2 linked regions of the Homo sapiens genome follow. The protein of the gene in region 1 interacts with the protein of each later gene in a pairwise test. Each region holds a gene or a part of one and is shown in the gene's direction. Other genes may lie near its edges.

Evidence for each region. Proteins that work in one complex are often made in the same cells at the same time.
Region 2: the proteins of TTC3 (region 1) and AKT2 interact in binary tests that used the Homo sapiens proteins (3 or more experiments, as listed by UniProt).

Annotation. Positions count from the first base shown.
Region 1 is NC_000021.9:37,195,244-37,202,281, forward strand, and holds part of TTC3 (E3 ubiquitin-protein ligase TTC3), read left to right. Parts: intron 1-431; coding exon 432-793; intron 794-2,326; coding exon 2,327-2,453; intron 2,454-2,638; coding exon 2,639-2,782; intron 2,783-4,988; coding exon 4,989-5,081; intron 5,082-6,196; coding exon 6,197-6,331; 3' UTR 6,332-7,038. UniProt on the Homo sapiens protein: E3 ubiquitin-protein ligase which catalyzes the formation of 'Lys-48'-polyubiquitin chains. Mediates the ubiquitination and subsequent degradation of phosphorylated Akt (AKT1, AKT2 and AKT3) in the nucleus.
Region 2 is NC_000019.10:40,240,322-40,247,359, reverse strand, and holds part of AKT2 (RAC-beta serine/threonine-protein kinase), read left to right. Parts: intron 1-4,672; coding exon 4,673-4,826; intron 4,827-5,290; coding exon 5,291-5,422; intron 5,423-7,038. UniProt on the Homo sapiens protein: Serine/threonine kinase closely related to AKT1 and AKT3. All 3 enzymes, AKT1, AKT2 and AKT3, are collectively known as AKT kinase.

The DNA of each region.
Region 1 (7,038 bases):
TGAGAGCTGCCAGGAGAGCTGGCAGGGAAGAGGAGGCGGCCCCCTGGGATGGAGACAGCTCTGGGGAGTGTGGTGGCCATGATGTTCCATCTGTCAGCTACATGGTTTAGCTCAGAAGGGGAAAAGTGTAACCAGGTAGAGGCTGAAGGAGGGCCAGTAGGCAGGCAAAATGGTCTCATCTTACAGAGAAAATAGTGACTTATAGAGATAATTATTTAGAAGTCTGAGCCCTCCTACTCTTGTTCTAATAACTAACAAGTTATTGTCAAGAATTCTTTTAAAACGAAAATATTTAATTCATGGTATTCAGGTTTCCTGTGCACGGAGCCTCTGCGCTGCGTTACTGTATTTATTCATCGGCCTTTGTCCTTGGGCGTTTCATCCTTCAAGGGAAGCCCTAAGTGATCCATGGTGTGGTGTGTTCCTCACAGGTTCATCCCGAGTTACTCCCTGAGTCTTCAGGCGACGATGGCCAAGGGCTTGTGACTTCTGCAAGCGACGTGACTGGAAACCACGCAGCACTTCACAGGGATCCTAGTGTGTTCTCTGCTGGTGATTCCCCAGGGGAGGCTCCTTCTGCGCTGTTGCCAGGGCCACCCCCTGGTCAGCCTGAAGCCACTCAGCTGACAGGGCCAAAACGGGCTGGCCAGGCAGCTCTGTCAGAACGAAGCCCTGTGGCTGATCGGAAGCAGCCTGTTCCTCCAGGACGTGCTGCGCGTTCAAGCCAGTCTCCAAAAAAGCCGTTCAATAGTATTATTGAGCACCTGTCAGTGGTATTCCCATGTTACAACAGGTATGAACAGAAAATGTCTGTGACTGTGTTTAATACTTTATCGAACTGAGGTTTCCTGATTAGATAAAATCATGGCTAGTTAGGTGTTAACATGAAAAGGGTTGCATAATTGTTTTGCTCAGAAAGACAGTTGCTACATTTCTTTCTTTTTGTAAATATAGAGATAAGTATTTTCAAATAAATTGGTGGGTTTTTTCTTTCTTTTTTTTTTTTTTTTTGAGACAGAGTCTCACTCTGTTGCCTAGGCTGGAGTGCTGTGGCACAGTCTCGGCTCCCTGCAACCTCTCCCTCCCGAGTTCAAGCGATTCTCCTGCCTCAGCCTCCTGAGAAGCTGGGATTATAGGCATGCATGACTAAGCCTGGCTAATTTTTGTATTTTTAGTACAGGTGGGGTTTCACCATGTTGGCCAGGCTGGTCTCGAACTTCTGACCTCAAGTGATTCACCCGCCTTGGCCTCCCAAAGTGCTGGGGTTACAGGCATGAGACGCCACACCCAGCCTCAAATAAATTTTTTAATGTGCATATGTAAATTGAAAACATTGAGCACTGGGTAATATTCATCAGAACCCATGACAATTTGCTAAGATTTTGATGAGACCAATAGCACTGTCTAAAACTAGTGTTATAGTATCAATAAATGAACGCAAAACAATAATTTTGCATCATTTGGGGGGACAAAATTATATATAGCAAAGAAGGCAGCAGCAACTTAAACCTTGTTATATAAGACCTCTGATTTGTTAGAGTGTGAGGTTGAAGACTGGATGGAATTCCATAGTGAATGGGGCATGTGGACATGTTAACAAGGGGTCCTTGTGAATGTGGGAAAAAGCTGCCCTTACCTGAGTGAGCAAGAGCTGTAAATAGAGTTGGGATGATGGCAGGCTCTTCAGTAGCGTTTCTGCCTCCACCTCTGGTTTCCGCTGTTCAGGTTGTTACGAGGGGGACAGAGTTGCCTCTTGTCTCAGCTGTGAAAGATGATGAGGTAGAGGCGGTGTCTCTGAAGTGCAGCTCGGATCAAAGGACTCTATGCTCAGGAATGACCTTTGGCATGTGCCCTATTATTTCAGTTTCTGAGACAGTGTTAATTACAGGCTTCAAAATTGAAATTTGTAAACAATGGGGCAGTTAAAATATGATTAGCCAGCAGGCATGGTGGCTCACGCCAGGCCGAGGCAGGTGGATCACCTGAGGTCAGGAGTTCGGGACCAGCCTGACCAACATGGTGAAACCCCATCTCTTCTTAAAAAAAAATGGCAAAACTCGCTTGAACCTGAGAGGCAGAGGTTGCAGTGAGCAGGGATCGCGCCACTGCCCTCCAGCCTGGGCAACAGAGTGAGACACTGTCTCAAAAAAAAAAAAAAAGTTATGCTTTTTAGATAGTTATTGTTGTTATCAGTGGTCTTCAGATTAATTTTATGTGCATTTGTCTTTGTTTCTTTGGGTTGGGCTGTTGGATTAATATTGGCATGTAATATTTCTTAGCAGTAGAGAACTTTCTGTTGTCATTCATCACTCACTCTCCCTTTCAGCACTGAGCTTGCTGGTTTTATTAAAAAAGTGCGAAGCAAAAACAAGAACTCACTCTCAGGATTGAGTATTGATGAAATTGTCCAAAGAGTGACAGAACACATTCTAGATGAACAGAAAAAGAAAAAGGTATTTTATCTAGATGTTCCAGTTTATCCTTATTTATTTATAAAATATGAGAATTGTTAAAAAAAAAAAAAAGCTTCAAACCAAAACCTAGAGAGCAATGTACTAAAGACAGAAGATGGTCAAGTTGTTGGATAACTGGTTGCTTCCCTCTTGTCCCCTCCCCGCCACCCCTGTTATTTTCGCAGCCAAACCCAGGAAAGGACAAGAGGACTTATGAGCCCAGCTCTGCCACCCCCGTGACCAGGTCCTCCCAGGGCTCACCCTCGGTGGTTGTTGCACCATCACCCAAAACCAAGGGGCAGAAAGCAGAAGATGTCCCTGTGAGGATTGTATGTATAACTGTATAGTTTTGTTTTTTAATGAAAAACAAGAAGCAAACAAAATTTTTAATCCATGATTTAGCCCCATTCATTTCTAGACCTAATTTATTTGATCCCAACATTAGAAACTGAATTTCAATGTACTTGAATGTGTCCAGTTAGAGCAATCAGTGAATGGCCGAGGTCATGGTGTCTGCTGTGATACGTTTGGGCCCAGCATGGAGAGAAGCCCCTGCACATGAGTGACAAGGGCTCTGACCATCGTGGGGGATCTGAGCCTTCTCTCTCTTGCCCTTGTTTTGCTGCAGATGGTCAAGTACATGAACTTTGTACATCCAGTGTGGTATTTTGAACAGTTGGGGAAATCATTTTTGAATAATTTTCTTCTGTGTAACCATGGCTTTGGAATTACACAGATGTGTCAATGTGTCGTGTGGCCACACCCACCCCAAGATAGACCGTGATTGCCTGGAGAAGAGGGTTCTGTTTTTGCTTCATGATGGATGTTTGTAGTAACGAAGATATAAAAGCTGACTTACTGAAACTTCACCAGATTGTATGAGAAAGAAAAATATGTGTTCAAACTGGGACCTAATTTGATAACCATAGTTTGTTAAAATTAAAAGTATTAATTTTCAAATTACAAAGTATTACATACAATAGAAAATACAAATAAAAAGGGCATTTAAAAACCCGCCCTGTAATCAGTATTACCACTTTGGTATATATTTTTCTAAACTCTTGAATGCATGGATATGTGAATTAGTCAAAACTGAATACGCTAGTCACACTTTGTATGTTCTCTGAGGGGCTGAATGTTTTGGTTGTTTTCCATTTTTTTTTTTATTGTGGTTGTCCTTTTTTTCTTTTAGTTAGAAATATACTGTGCCCATCTTTTCTAGGAAATAGAAAACGGTCAAGTTAAGTGTATATTTTTTTCAAACTAAACCTGGCTCCGAGCTTTGCACTGGGCATTGGAGAGGCCTTCAATGGCTCTTCCCCGGTCTGGCACTTCCTCTTCTTCCCTGACCCTCGAGTCATGGGCAGCAGTGGAGGGGCATGAACCCTCCTTCTGCAGCATCTGCCCCATCTCCTCCTGGGCCGAGTCATGCCTTGGGAGAGACAGCAAAACCCTGAACAGCAGTTCAAGGTCTTCTCAGCCTTGGGGTGATGCCTCCAGTGCCACTCCCTGAACTTGATCCCACTGCCAGGGCTGCCTGCATTCGCCCACTCCCTCAGCAGGGGTTTTTAGAGCATGAGTTTGAGCTAGGTTTTCTGCCAGCTGCTAAAGACCCAGATGGGACTCATTTTGTGCCTTCAAGGCGCTCAGAGTTAAGAGGCAGTGAGCTAGAGTAGAAGTTAATGGTGCAGTAAGGGTAAGTGCTGTGAGCTGCAGGGAGAACTGTGCCTGGAGTCCCAGGCGACACTCAGGTCTGCTCTCACATCGAAAGCACTGTCTATGCTCACCAGACTGTGAGCCGCTGAGGCCAGAGCCCTCCATTCATCTCTGCGTCCAGCACCCGACACCAACCCTGCCCATGGATGTTTGCCGGATGAGCCATCCGTTTGTTTTGTTTTGATTTGCACAAGTAATCCATGCTCATAGAAACTAGAAAATAGTAAAGAAAAAGATTAAATCTCCCTTACCCTGAGGCAACCACTGTTAACTGTTTTTCTAGGCATGTATGTATACATGCAGCCCCTTTATTAAAAAGTGAGTTATATATGATACATGTTGTCTTGTTAGCTGCTTTCATTCAGCAGGCTGTTGGGGCCAGCTTTCTATGTCAGGGATTATGGGCTTCCGTCATGATTTTCCTTTTGGCTACACAATAGCCCATTGTGTGGATGTGTTGGAATTTACTACCCTCAACTGTTAGATGATTAAATGTATGATTAATTCACACCATGCCATGTGATTATCCCATACTGTACTTTAGGTATGGTAATCTTCACCTGGGGATCTTCTGGTCACATAAAACAGTTTTTTCTCTGAGGAAATTAGAACTTTATACTTTTCTTTTTGTATTTTTATATTTTTTCTTAAGAAATGCTATTAAAAAATAAGTTGTTTCCTCAGACTGTTTAGCTGTAATTGTGAATAATTTGCCACCCTTTGTGGCAGAAGATGTTTGAAGGCCACTTGAAGGAAGAACTCGTGTCATAAAAACAACTGTAGTTATTCTTTACTATTCAGGTGTGTTTGTTTCCACAGGCACTGGGTGCAAGTTCCTGTGAAATATGCCACGAGGTGTTCAAATCAAAAAACGTGCGTGTGCTCAAATGTGGGCACAAGTATCACAAAGGGGTAAGAGCTCTTTTTGGCCATCCTTACAGCATGCATTGGGACCTTCAAATATTTTCAAAATAAGAAAGGAATTGTTTTCTAGTCATCAGTATTTATTGTGCTTTCAAACTATTTTCTTTGCAAACCTCCCGTGTCAGTGTTCAGTGCCTCCCTGTCCTCACACCAGCTCTGCAGGAAGGGCAGCTCTGGAGACCGTCCTTTCCATCCCTTGTGGGGAGAGGGGAACAGCAGCTCCAGCCACTCGTTAGTGCTGAGATTCAAAGCAGTATTAGTTCCTTGAAAGGTGATTTCTTACACACTTGACTAAATGGAGAAACAGTGAAACCATTTTTTTGACTTAGTGTAGTATATGAAGTCAGTTTAACATTTTAGAGGAGAAAAACTAAACCTAGCTGAGTCCCTTCTGCCTGACCCAGGGACAGTCCTGCTCGTACCGTTCTGGGATCTGTGTGTGAACTATCATGGTGTTCTAGGTACCGTGAGCATTTGTGTGCACCCCTGCTGCTGGGTTAGAACAGATCAGGTCTCTGCCATGGGGATTTGCTAATCCCTTGGAACGGGATAAATACAGCATGCTCACTGAAAGGAATTGAGACCACTTGCCAAGTCTCTGGTGTGGTGTGCCTCCTTGGGTACAGGGTCTTATATTTGGGCTAGCTGACTGTCCACAGCCTCTGCAGTGTGGGCAGCAGCAGCAGGAGTGTGGCGTGCAGGCTGGAGGGCTGTTCCAGAGCCAAGGGCCAAGGCCAGGCCAAGGGATGGGCTAAGAATGAGTGATTGGGTCATAGGGCCGAGAATGCCAGGCTCTGGAATTTGGCGCAGCTGAAGTGGAAGAGCCGAGCCTGGAACCGGGGATCAGGGCAAGACCACCCCCTGAGGCCAGGTTGGAGGCCCAGAGCGCTCAGGATCTGACCCTGAGGTGGGATCGTTTGCGGCTGGGGCTTTGTCCACACTCTGGCCTGAGCGGGTGTTGGTGTCCCTGAGTATTGGGCAGCTCCAGGCCCAAGAGACCAAGGGCAAGTGAGCCACGCCTGCCAAGGAGCCCAGCAGCACAGGGGAGCTAAGCTTCCTCATGGTCCTGAAGGCATCTTCTGATTTTGTTTTCTCCTTTTCAGTGCTTTAAGCAGTGGCTTAAAGGGCAGAGCGCTTGCCCGGCCTGCCAGGGTCGTGATCTCCTGACAGAAGAGTCACCTTCTGGAAGAGGCTGGCCCAGTCAGAATCAGGAGCTGCCTTCCTGCTCTTCTAGGTAGTCACACTTCACTAAAGTGTCATCCACCAGTGTGTTGAATCCGAAGAATGACAATTTTCTACCACTGGTGTAAAAAACAAACATTTGAAGACCCTTGTGCATTGTGTGTCACAAAGCTAAATACATGGAAATCGTTAATATCGCTGATATTAAGTAATTTCCCCACTCTGAGTGAATACTTTGATGATTGCCAACAGTGGCTAATAAAATGACGGCTACCACACTCATGGGTCACTGGGGCTGCGCAGGGCTCTTTGAGGTGGGTGGCTTCTTTTGGAAAGTACTATGAACGTCTCGAAGCAGTATTCTAGTGATAAGAATTCTTAACATAGCCAAGCGCCCCACGTTTGTTCCCCACGTTTGTTCCCCTTTTCTGTTTGAAAAACCTGTTCTGGTAGCTCCACAAGAGAGATGATACTGACTTTTTAAATTTTTTACAAGAGTCTGTATTCCTGATATGCCTATATTTTTCCTCAAAGATTCTGCATTTTAAGGATGGGCATAAGCAAACTATATTTTAATAATTTATAGTTAATGTTAAAATATTGGCTGATTTAGACCAAAAGATTCAAATCTCCTCTTTGTGAAATCCCATCTGCATTTGATTTTTTATTATTTTATGTTCCCCCGTTAGATTGTTTTAAGTGTTTGCTTTTCATCTTTTATAGATGTAATCTGATTTTCAAAAATCATTAACACTTTTTAATT
Region 2 (7,038 bases), on another chromosome or scaffold:
TGAGAATTGCAGTGCTCTTGAGAATCAAGCGAGGTGGTGTCTGGAGCTAGCCACTCAGTGCTGTTATTTTTACAGTCGTGGTTTACCCAGGGGCTCTCCTCTGGGGGCTAGAAGATACTTGAGGCCCAGCTTCATGGGGAGCTCCCCTTTGCCCCAGACGCCATGTTGCAAACCCTTGAGAAGGATCCTGGACAGAGGCCCTTGCTTTTCATCTGGAATTCTGAGTGCTGCAACCTTGCAACTTTGGTCCAGTTAGAATTGGATCGGAAGCTAGTCAGGCAGCAGGCGAGCCCCAGTTACTCCCAGATAACCTCCTGCATTGCTGTGGTTTCTGGAGCTTTCTGTAGGGTGGGCAGTGGGAGCCAGGGTAGGTGGGGTAGGCCCGCCCCTGCGAGTGTCTTCGGCACCCTCCCTTCCACCCCGCCCTGCGCGCGGTGCTCTGCGCCGACAGCCCGCCAACCTCTTAGCCCCAGGCCCAGGCCCTGGTGGAGGGGAGAGCTGGGAGGGCTGAGCTGGTCCAGGTGGCAGAGCCACTCTTGGAGCCCCAGCTGGGGTGGGTCCAGGGCCTGTGCTCCTGATTCCCATCTGGAGTAGCCTCCCAGAGCTGCTTCTGGGCTGGTGGTGTGGCAGTGCCATCCTTCATGTATTTGGGTTCTCTCCACAGAGGGACCATCTGTGTTCTCTCCACCCCTGTCTTTGAAAACAAAGATGATACCACGCTGTACATCTTAGTCTGCAATCTGCCATCTTCACGTGACAGTCTCTCAAGATCTTTATATATGAGAGACATATTTTCCTTTTTAATATCTTCACTGTATCTCTTAGGAGATCTGTGATTTTTTTTTTCCCAATCCGCCATCATTTACTCAGAGTCAGCATTAAAAAAATTTAAAATTTGTGAGAGGACAACTATGTCTGATAAAGCATGTCATGGAAGGCTGGGCACAGCAGCTCACACCTGTAATCCCAGCACTTGGGGAGACCGAGGCAGGCAGATCATGAGGTCAAGAGATCGAGACCATCCTGGCCAACATGGTGAAACCCTGTCTCTACTAAAAATACAAAAATTATGGTGGCGGGTGCCTGTAGTTCCAGCTACTCTGGAGGCTGAGGCAGGAGAATCGCTTAAACCTGGGAGCCACTGCACTCCAGCCTGGCAGCAAAGCGAGACTCTGTCTCCAAAAACAAAAAGAAACAAAAAAGAAAAAAGCCTGTCATGGAATGGGCTCCTGCCCTGTCCCCGGCCCCTGCTTTTTTTTTTTTTTTTTTTTGAAAAACAGGAATATTAGTGTAGGGTTTGGGAATTAGGCTGTAATTTGTTCCTAAGGGGGCATGGGTTAAAGCAAGTTGAGAAATACTGGCTTGAGATGTTGGGCCAGGGAGTGCAGAAGCCAACACCGCTCTGCCCGGGTGTGCACCAGGGCTCAGTGCGTGCTCTGCCCGGGTCTGCACTGGGCCCTGCTGCGCCCTGGCCCTGGGGCCACTTGGACTTTGGCTGCCTCACTCTTTCATTACCCAAGTATCTACTGAGTATCCACCATGAGTTCTGGGGGCAGAACTGTGTTCAAAGCAGGTGGAAATCTCTGCCTCCGTGGGGTGGACATAGATGGGTTATGGGGACTCCAGTCTCTGAGTGGGTGGGGAGGGCAGCGTGCCTTTTGTAATTCCAGCTACCAAGCCTGGAGCAACTGCTGTTTTTCTGGAATCTGTTTTTTCAATCTGTGCCCCAGTTCCTCCTTCATAATGGGTGGGAGTAGGGATAGTTGATGATAGCAAGTGCTTCCCATTTGTTATTAGAGGCTGTTCCTTTCCTTCGACTCCCAGTTCCCCTCCCTTGGAGGCAGGCAGGGCTCCAGGATCATGACTTCTCTTCTGGAGATGTTTGTGCCTATGTGAGCATGTGTCTGCAGAAGTTCATTATTTTCTAACTTAGGAGCACAGAACTGTATACTGTTCTTCACCTTCCTTAATTTTGAAATTTTTTATAAAGGCGTGGTCTTCTTATGTTGTCTAGGCTGGTCTGGAATTCCTGGGCTCAAGCAGTCCTCCAGCCTCTGCCTCCTAAATTGCAGGGATTACATGAGTGAGCTACCTTGCCCATCCCTGCACCTTCCTTTTTCTCTTAAGAAGTCTCAGATCATCCCAAGTCAGCATACAGACCTGCCTCAATCTTTCCCCCAGCTGCAGAATGTCTCATTGCACAGATGCCTCACAGGCATTCTACCTCACGACAGCCTGTGTATTAAACACTGCTGTGATATTTCATCAAATCGAAGGCGCTGTCATTGGGGAGGCACCCTGTTTCATATAGTGCCAAGAAAAAGGCGTGCCCAGTTAAATCAAGACAGACCCCAACTGTGAGATTAATCTGCATTCCAGCAGTGTCAAAATGTGGAAGAGGGTGCGTTGTGGGATGGATGGAAATAGAAGTAGTTTCGCGTGGTACACCAGGAAACGAGACTGGGGAGGAATACAGCCCAGCAGGGTGTCCCGGCTTGGATTTTGAAGCCCAGTCCCAGCCACACTTGTTCCCTGCCTGACCTTGGGTAGGGGCCCCAGTGTCTCAGGAACACAGGAGCAGTGACACTTGCCCTGGGGCGGGGGCCATCCTGGAAGATGCTGTGAAGGGCTGGCTGCACTCCCTGTGGCTTATTTAAATCACTGGGATTTGCGTGATTACACTCTCTGAATTTTCTCATTCTTAGTGAACATTTTATTTTTCTTGTTGGTCATATGAGTATTTTCTAGATACAAGCAAAATACACGGGGGGTTCAAAATGCGTTGGGTTGAAACACCTAATTGCAGTGTGGTCAAAAATGGGGGATGTGGACAATTTGGTGTAATTCAGCCTAATATATTTTTCATTTTGGTCTCTGGTCATTTTCACTTATTAGACAGAACAGTTTGTAAGTATCCAAAGAAAATTATTTTGTTTTTTTTTTAGCTGATTGCAGTGGTATGATCATGGCTCACTGCAGCCTCCACCTCCTGGGCTCAAGCAGTTCTCCCACCTTAGCCCCCTGAGTAGCTGAGACCACAGGCATGTGCCCCCACACCTGGCTAATTTTTTATCTTTGGTCTCTACAAAGTGGGTATCCATGTTGCCTAGGCTGGTCTCAAACTTCCGGATGCAAGCCATCGTCCCGTCTCAGTCTCCCAAAGTGCCAGGATTGCAGGTGTGAGCCACCGAGCCCAGCTCAAAGACAGTTCTTTCTCAGCAAGTTCTAAACCATGAGTGACAGAACTAGTTTATTGTTCTTTATTTTATTATTATTATTATTATTATTATTATTATTATTATTTTATTATTATTTTGGGATGGAGTCTCGCACTGTTGTCCAGGCTGGAGTGCAGTGGCGCGATCTCGGCTCACTGCAACCTCCGCCTCCCGGGTTCAAATGATCCTCTTGCCTCAGCCTCCCGAGTAGCTGGGATTACAGGCGCCCGTCACCACGCCCGGCTAATTTTTTGTATTTTTAGTAGAGACTGGGTTTTACTATGTTGGCCAGGCTGGTCTCGAACTCCTGACCTCAAGTGATCCTCCACCTTGGCCTCCCAAAGTGCTGGGATTACAGGCGTGAGCCATCGCACCTGGCCTGTTTTTATTTTTTATTTTTGTTTTTTAAAAACTTTTTAAGAGATGGGTCTTGCTTTGTTACCTAGGCTGGTCTTGAACGCTTCGGCTCAAGCACTTGGTCCACCTTGGCCTCCCAAAATGCTGGGATTACAGGTGTGAGCCACAGTGCTTAGCCTCTAGTTAACTGTTCTTAAACCAGGCTCCCTTCTGCTGGGACCTACTTCTTGTCCACCAGCTTCTCTCCTCTACATCCCTGGGCTGCCAGGACCTCTGTCCCTGCCATGCAGACTCCCTGCTCCCAGTGGACTGTCCCCTCCAGGGAGTCCTGCGGGCCAGCTCTTGCCTTGCAGTGTCTTCAGCTCCTTTGGCTAATGAATGCTGCTTCTTACTCTTGGTTTAACTTTACAAAACATTGGTAACTTATAAACTTGAGCTTGTCATTTGTTCCGAAGAATTCACAGGAGCACTCTCTCTCCCTCATTCAAGGCTCAGGGTGGTGGCTCATTTTCAAGGGGCTGTGAAAAGAGAGGGTCACTCCTTTTTGATCATTTCCCTGCTGCCTGGCTTCAAATGGCCCTCAGGCCAGGTCACTTTAGGGAAATTGGTGATCGCTCTTGGTATTCCACTTTTTTTTTTTTTTTGAGACGGAGTCTCGCACTGTCACCAGGCTGGAGTGCAGTGGTGCGATCTCTGCTCACTGCACCCTCCGCCTCCCGGGTTCAAGCAATTCTCCTGCCTCAGCCTCCTGAGTAGCTGGGATTAGGCGAATGCCACCCCTGACTAATTTTTGTATTTTTAGTAGAGACGGGGTTTCACCATGTTGGCCAGGCTGGTCTCGAACTCCTGACCTTGTGATCCATCCGCCTCAGCCTCCCAAAGTGCTGGGATTATAGGCATGAGCCACTGCGCCTGGCGTGGAATTTCACTCAGGTCCCTTCAGCTCTCTCTGGTTCTGACAGATCTTGCCCAAATTCCCATGGTTATGTGGTCATTTGCTTGCCTGTTGCTGGGGGTGGCTGGGAGGTGGCACTCAGCTGTTCGACTCTGAGGCCCAGGACTCCTGGCTGCTGGGACTCACGTGTGTCCCTGCACAGGGAGGAGTGGATGCGGGCCATCCAGATGGTCGCCAACAGCCTCAAGCAGCGGGCCCCAGGCGAGGACCCCATGGACTACAAGTGTGGCTCCCCCAGTGACTCCTCCACGACTGAGGAGATGGAAGTGGCGGTCAGCAAGGCACGGGCTAAAGTGGTAAGTGCTGGGAGCAGGGGTGGGGCTGCCAGCCTGCGGTGCCCCCACCCCCAGTGCTGGCCTGCTCTCCTTGGTTTCCATAACACAGTTCAGGGGGCTCAGCTGAGAGACAAGGCTGCCCTGCAGGGTGGGGTGATTTCAGGTGGCAGGTGCCCTAGGGTGTGCTCCATGCCCGTAGGGGAGGGAGCAACCTTGGGTGGACCCACTGCAGGTTCGTCCTGGGAGTTGGTGAAGACCTGGCTACCCCCACGTCAGAGCCCAGCCCTCCCAAGGCCCTGTGCCTGCAGAGCCTGGTCTGAAGGCCGCTTCAGAACACACAGTTGCTGCCCAGAGCCTCCCTTCCTGCTCCAGCCTAAGCCGTTTGGCAACAGTGTCTTTTGGTTTTCCTCTTTCTTTTGTTAAAATTTCCTCCCACGGGCCATGAGCCAGGCGCTGACTGCCCCCACTCTCCCTGTCCCTGGCAGACCATGAATGACTTCGACTATCTCAAACTCCTTGGCAAGGGAACCTTTGGCAAAGTCATCCTGGTGCGGGAGAAGGCCACTGGCCGCTACTACGCCATGAAGATCCTGCGGAAGGAAGTCATCATTGCCAAGGTGCGTGCCCCGGGAATTGCGCTCGCGAGCCTCTGTGGGGGCTGCGGTCTGGAGCCTGACCCTGAGGCCTGGACGCTTACCCGCGCTTTCTGCTGCTGTGGGCTTATTTCCCCCACAAATTCCCCCTAGTCAGAAAAGGGGGAGCCTGAGGCCCAGAGAGGAGCAGCAGGCCTTGCTGCTGAGTCCCCACCTCCACCCTATGTTAGGGGCTGGGGGTGCCTGTGGAGAGAGAGAGCCTCGGGGCCCCACCCAGCAGGTACTGTCAAGGGAGGCTGGGGCCTGTTGGGGAGGACGTCGCTGTTGGGGAGTCCCGGGCTTTGCTCAGGGTATCCCAGGTGGAGGCCGGGCCAGGAGTGGAATTCTACTTTTTCCCTTATTTGAATTTTTTGTAGTGGAAGATTCCAAAGACATTCAAAAATTTAAAAAGAAAATAAATATTACGGACCCCCATGTAGCCATTGTCCAGTTTAACCAGTTATCAGCGTTTAGCCAGCCTTGTTTCCTTAGCTCTGCCTGTCCCTCTTGTTCTGGAATACTTTAAGGCCTGTCCTAGACAACACGTCACTTCACTCATCCATACTTGAACATGTGTCCTGACAGATGAAGACTGTAAAGAATATAATCATGTGGTGCTGCCATCAGAGCCAACCAAATTAGCTGTTCATTCCTGATGTGACGATTGGGCCTAAGGCAGCCTTCCTCAGCCTCAGCACTGTTAACGTTTTGGGACAGATGATTCTGCGCTGTCGGGGCAGCCCTGTGCATTCTAGGGTTTCAGCAGCACCCCTGGCTTCTACCCACTGAAGCCAATACTAGCTCCCCAAGTTGTGACAATCAAAAATGACTTTTGGGTTGGGCGCCACAGCTCACGCCTGTAATTCCAGCACTTTAGAAGGCTGAGGTGGGAGGATCGCTTGAGCCCAGGAGTTCGAGACCAGCCTGGGCAACAAAGCAAGACCCTGTCTCTGTAAAAATAAAAATAAATTAGCTGGGCATAGTGGCGTGCACCTGTAGTCCCAGCTGCTCAGGAGGCTGAAGTGGGAGGATCAGTGGAGCCTCAGAGGTTGAGGCTGTAGTGACCCATGTTCACACCACTGCACTCCAGCCTGGGCGACAGAGCCAGACCCCCAGCTAAAAAAAAAAAGGGAAAAAAAAAAAAAAGACTTCAGACATTCTCAGGTGTCCCCTGGGGATAAACTTGCCCCAGAGAGAGCCTGTGTTCACGTTGCTGCAGGTGGCTCCAGATTTTTGGAACCACTCCTGGTGGTTCTGCTGTACAGTCAGGTACCAAATTAGAACCTGAATTAGAGTCACCCAAAGGGCTTGTGAGACAGTGCTGGGCCCACCCCGAGTTTCTGACTCAGTGGGCCTGGGGGTAGGTCCCAGGAATTTGCATTGCTGCCAGTTCCCAGGCGGTGCTGAGGTGCTGTGTGGGGACCACACCAAGAAGCACTGTTTTTCCTTCTTTGGGCAAGAATGCTTTCTAGGTGGGACTTCCCACAGCCTGTGGTGGCACCTCGGGGCTCTCGTGATGTCTGTTTGTCTCCCTTGCAGGGACGTCACAGGTGTCTTGTCCCTAGCAGCCTGGTCCTTACATTGTGACATTCCTGCTGACT